2 separate regions of the Homo sapiens genome follow, and region 2 is linked to region 1. Evidence: fine-mapped expression QTL. A gene starts in region 1. The other region holds a variant in brackets. All regions are shown on one strand. Distances are between the middles of the regions.

Evidence for each region.
Region 2: its variant is fine-mapped to the expression of FALEC in iPS cells (iPSCORE, PIP 0.95).

What each region holds. Positions count from the first base shown.
Region 1 is chr1:150,514,239-150,517,150 of GRCh38, forward strand. It overlaps FALEC (focally amplified lncRNA regulator of ECM1), which reads left to right and starts at 1,514. Exons shown (of 6, transcript NR_186305.1): 1 at 1,514-1,824. RefSeq lists enhancers at 959-1,028, 1,099-1,248 and a silencer at 1,339-1,708.
Region 2 is chr1:150,883,921-150,886,832 of GRCh38, forward strand. It overlaps a transcript of LOC107985204 not described here. Among named protein-coding and RNA genes, the nearest start is that of CTXND2, 1.8 kb to the right of the region's middle. RefSeq lists enhancers at 338-482, 2,103-2,247 and cis regulatory regions at 410, 2,175. The variant AAAAAATAT/A (reference allele first, on the strand shown) is at 1,448.

The DNA of each region.
Region 1 (2,912 bases):
TTTATTGAACCCCTATCTATGCACACTCTGCTAGACTTGGGGATACACATCCAGAACACACACAGCCCCTGCCCTGAGGTTGTTCACTGTCCCTGAGCCTAGCAGGTGTGACAAGTGTTGTGGTACAGGGCCCCCAGCGTGCTCTGAGCATGACAGGAACGTCCCGAGGTGGGAGTGGGGCTGGGGGCAGCACAGGTGCACAGGAGGGGCGTTGAGGTCAGAGTTTCTCCAGTAAAGAAGTAGAGGGTGTGAGCGGGCAGAGTGCGCACAAGGGTCAAGGCTGAAAGGACCTGACTCTTTGGTGGCCTTCCTCTCTGATATGGCTGGAATGATAAGCAGGAGCTCATCACTAATGCCTCACCCGCAGGGTTTTAAGTGGATCTTGGTGCCCTGGCCCAGGGGGCACTGGCGTTTTCAAGCGGAGGATGTGTTCCAATTTGCCTTTTAAGAATGTCTAGGCCGGACGCACTGGCTCACGCTGTAATCCCAGCATTTTGGAAGGCCGAGGCGGGCGGATCACTTGAGGTTAGGAGTTCGAGATCAGCCCGACCAACATGGTGAAACCCCATCTTTACTGAATTAGCCAGGCGTGGTGGTGCCCACCTATAATCCAAACTACTCGGGAGGCTGAGGCACGAGAATCACTTGAACCTGGGAGGTGGAGGTTGCAGTGAGCCAGTATCGCACCACTGCACTCAGCCTGGCCGACACAGCGAGACTGTGCCTCAAAAATAAAATAAAATAAAATAATGTCTAGTCGGAGAGCCGGGGAGGTGGCGCGCGCCTGTAATCCCAGCCACCCAAAGAGCTATGGTCTCGGCACTGCACTTCAACCTGCGAGACCCAGTCTCAAAAAGAAAAAAAAAAGTTTAGTCGGCAGCCAGCAAGGCGGGACGCTGGGAGGCCAGTTCAAAGAGTGTCGTCCCAAGTGCCGGAGGGACGGAGCTGTAGCCCCCAACCTGAGCTGGACCCGAGGGTGGCGGTGACTAGGACTCTCAAGCCCTACAAAGCTGCTCCCAGGAACCCGAGGCCTCAAGGCTGGATCTGAAAGAATCGGAATGAAGACTCGGAATGAAGAGTCCCAGGGGAACAAGTCCTGTGTGACTCCGCCGCCAGGACGACCTTCCAGAAAGCAGACTTCTCCGCTCCAGTTCTAGCGGAGACGGAGAGAGTGAACCAAGAACCATCATCCTGCGCCAGCCAGGGGCAAGCGGAGCCTCAGTTGCTCCCAAACCCACGCCCGCCTCTCCTTCCTCTCCTCCTCCACAGGCTTTCATTTATTTACTTAAGTATTTTTAGCCCAGTAGCAGTTTCCAGTCCAGCGGCTCCTCAGATCTTTCGCCGGCTGTCCGCCCCACCTGTCCGTCAGCACGCGAGCCAATGAGCGGGCGAGGGCAGCGCTGTGCCCCGCCCCTGAGCCGGCAGCCCAGTCTCGGGAGCCCGGGGCCGCCTGGGCCTCCTGCCCGCCGCGCTCGAGTCTGGAGCTCGAGAGTGACACTGCGCATGTGCGGGCGTCCTGCGCATCTCCTACGGCCTCCAGGACAGAGGAACCGGGGGAGGCAGGGGGAAAAGGCCGGCCCAGCAATTCCCCTACCCCCCGGTCCCACGTGTACCCTCCTGGCCTGGGTCGCCCCAGCCCACGGGGAGCGGGCGGAGTCCTGGCCCACGAAGCCTTGTCACCTGGCGGGCGAATCCGCAAGCGGAGACTTGTCTTTAAAGGGCTTTGGGCCGGGCGCGGTGGCTCATGCCTGGAATCCCAGCACTTTGGGAGGCCGAGGCGGTGGATCACGAGGTCAGGAGTTCAAGACCAGCCTGGCCAAGAAGGTGAAACCCCGTCTGTACTAAAAATACAAAAAAAAAAAAAAATTAGCAGGGCGTGGTGGCGGGCGCCTATAATCCCAGCTACTCGGGAGGCTGAGGCAGAGAATTGCTTGAACCCGGGAGGCGGAGGCTGCAGTAAGATCGCGCCACCGCACTCCAGCCTGGGCGAGAGAGGAGACTCTGTCTCAAAAAAAAAAAGGGAGCGGGGGGGCTTTGGTCTGTGCAGGAGCTTCCCGGAGATGCTTTAGAGCTGCGTTTGCAAAGTGCAGCGCCAAATGCTGCAGAGAGGTGGGAGTCAGAGGAGAGGAGGACTGCGGTCCCAAACCCTAGCAGTTTAGTCTGTCGGGGAGGAGAGGAAGGGAACCCGGAGAGCACTTGTAAGCTACAGTGCTGAATATGAGGAGGTACTGAATTGAGCATCAAATGCTGAGAGTTAAAGAATTCTCCCTAGGGACCAGCCAGCTATTATCTGGAAGCAGTGAGTTTGGATAGAGCCTGGAAGCACGGGTAGCATTGCTGTTAGCAATAAAAGGTGAACGTGTTAACATTCACTGCAATTCGTTGTATACACTATTAAAATATAACTTGCTCAATTCAGGGGCGGTGAGTAAAGTAAAGGAGTCAGAGCTCCTAATTATTGGAGAGGCCAGGGAAAGCTTCACAGAATTCAAGCTTGAGTAGGGTTTTGTTGAAAGGGAAGGATATACAAAGCATTGAATGTATGCAAAGTTCAGCTAAAGTAAACAGTCCTTTTTGTGTTAGGCAGAGTGCTAAAAGTACTCTGGCTATAACGAAGACTACAACACCACCTTCAGGGACTTTAGCGTCTGTGGAGACTTGAACATCTAATGTTAGAAATATTCTCAGAATTCTGAGACAGCCACCTAGCCTGGCCTTCAGGGAGATCTTCCAGGAAGAGGAAATAACACAGAAAGTGTGGTATATTTAAATATACCTAGCCAGGCGCGGTGGCTCACACCTGTAATCCCAGCACTTTGGGAGGTCGAGGCCAGTGGATCAACCGAGGTCAGGAGTTCGAGACCAGCCTGACCAACATGGTGAAAGCCGTCCCTACTAAAAATACAAAATTA
Region 2 (2,912 bases), 370 kb after region 1:
ATGAACTGATCAGTATCTTGAAGATGGAAGATTCTAGAATTGCAGAAGACCCTAGTTTAAAAATATCTGAAAGGGGATGAGACTGGTCTGGGAAGCAAATGAAGCCAGAAGTTATTGGACTGAGAAGAGAGGTTTAATTCTGGAAGCTGATGTTGATAGCAAATTCAAAAGTGAGAGAGTTGGAGTCAGAGGATAGGCACTGGGAACCACATGTATCACAAAAAAGTTATTAATAAGTAAAAAATGTGTAAAAATGTATCTGTGTGTACTTATGTTTGTAGATAGATATACATTTTCAAATCAATAAGTAAAAGGTTAATAGCTCAGTCAAAAGGGAAAAGGATAGGTAAGGTGAAGATAGGTTTGTATGTATCTGCAAAATATGTAAATCAATAGAGATTCAAATACTGTAGTAATTAGAGAAATGCAATCTTTAAAAAACTGAGATATTGGGCCAGGCGCAGTGGCTCACACCTGTAATCCCAGCACTTTGGGAGGCCGAGGCGGGCAGATCATGAGGTCAGGAGTTCGAGAAAAGCCTGACCAACATGGTGAAACCTCGTCTCTACTAAAAATACAAAAATTAGCCGGGCATGGTGGCGTGCGCCTGTAATCCCAGTTACTCAGGAAGCTGAGGCAGGAGAATCACTTGAACCCCAGAGGCGGAGGTTGCAGTGAGCCGAGATCACACCACTGCACTCCAGGCTGGGCGACAGAGCAAGACGCTGTGTCAAAAAATCAAAAACAAAACAAAACAAAACAAAAAAGATATTGTGGGGTTTTTTTGTTTTTGTTTTTGTTTTTGTTTTTCTTGAGATGGAGTCTCAATTTCTTGTTCTGTTGCCCAGGCTGGAGTGCAGTGGCTCGATCTCAGCTCACCGCAACCTCACCCTCCTGGGTTCAAGCAATTCTCCTTCCTCAGCAACCCAAGTAGCTGGGATTACAGGCGCACACCACCATGTCCGGCTAATTTTTTGTATTTTTAGTAGAGACAGGGTTTCACCATGTTGGTCAGGTTGGTCTCGAACTCCTGACCTCAGGTAATCCACCCGCCTCGGCCTCCCAAAGTGCTAGGATTACAGGCGTTAGCCACCGTTCCCAGCCTAAAAACTGAGATATTGTTTTTAACCAATTAGCTCAACAAATATTTCAGAGACTCTGAGTAACTTACATTGGTGAAGCTATGAAAAAAAAGAAAAGGCACTTTCATGCCTATTTGATTGGAGTGTAAATTACTATAACCGTTTAGTGTGTAATTTGGTAATATCTATTAAAATTCCAAATGTGCATATCCTACAACCTAGCATGTATATTTTTAATATTTGGAGGAATTTATTCCACAAAAACATTTCCACAAGTGCCCAGAGAAATATATATACAAGGCTGTCACTCCAGCCTGGGTGACAGAGTGAGACTCTATCTCAAAAAAAAAAAAAAAAAAAAAAAA[AAAAAATAT/A]ATATATATATATATATATATGTATGTATATATATGTATGTGTATATATATGTATGTATGTATATATGTGTATGTATATATACACACACAAACACGGATATTTATTGCAATGTTGCTATAAGAAATTTGAAACAATACAAAAGCCCACCAACAGAGAAAATGGACTACTTGAGTACTCAGCAGCCATTAAAAAGAATAAAGCAGATTTTTTTTTTTTTTTTTTGATATGGAGTCTGGCTCCGTCGCCCAGGCTGGAGTGCAGTGGCACCATCTCGGCTCACTGCAACCTCTGCCTCCCAAGTAGCTGGGACCACAGGCGCACACCAACATACCTGGCCAATTTTTGTATTTTTAGTAGAGACGGGGTTTTGTAATGTTGGCCAGGCTGGTCTCTAACTCCCGACCTCAAGTGATCCACCTGCCTCAGCCTCCGAAAGTGCTGGGTTTACTGGCGTGAGCCACCATGCCTGGCCCGGTTATGACTTTTTTTTTTTTTTTTTTTTTTTTTTGTGAGATGGAGTCTGGCTCTGTCACCCAGGCGGGAATGCAGTGGCGCGATCTCGGCTCACTGCAAGCTCCGCCTCCCAGGTTCACGCCATTCTCCTGCCTCAGCCTCCCGAGTAGCTGTGACTACAGGTGCTCGCTACCACGCCCAGCTAATTTTTTGTATTTTTAGTAGAGACCGGATCTCACTGTGTTAGCCAGGATGGTCTCGATTTCCTGACCTCGTGATCCGCCTGCCGCAGCCTCCCAAAGTGCTGGGATTACAAGCGTGAGCCACCGCGCCCGGCCTGACTTTTTAAATCAAATGTGTCAAGTAAATTCTTCTGAGGAAAGAGGGGAAAACATTTTAAAGCATCACTAATCCTGTTGACAAGTAGTTCCCAAACTTAAGCATACATCACAATCACCTAGAGAAGCTGGTTAAAACACAAATGCCACAGGAAGTGGTGGTGCATGCCTGTAGTCCCGGCTACTGGGGAGGCTGAGGCAGGAGGATCACTTGAGCCCAGGAGTTTGAGGCTGTAGTGCACTGTGATTCACCTATGAATAGCCACTGCACTCCAGCCTGGGCAACATAGACCCCATCTCTTAAATACACACACACACACACACACACACACACACACACACACAGGCCAACACCCCCAAAATTTCTTATTCATTAGGACCAGGATAAGGGTCCAAGAGTTTGCATTTCTAGCAAGTCCCTGGGAGATGCTGTAATTCAGAGACCTGTTGCATAGACCAAAAAGTTGGCTACCAATCCATCCTCTACCACTCATGTGATCCTACTTAGAAGTTTTTACCTGAGGCGGGGCGTAGTGGCTCACGCCTGTAATCCCAGCACTTTGGGAGGCTGAGAGGGGTGGAACACAAGGTCAGGAGTTTGAGACCAGCCTGGCCAATATGGTGAAACCCCATCTCTACTAAAAATACAAAAATTAGCTGGGCAT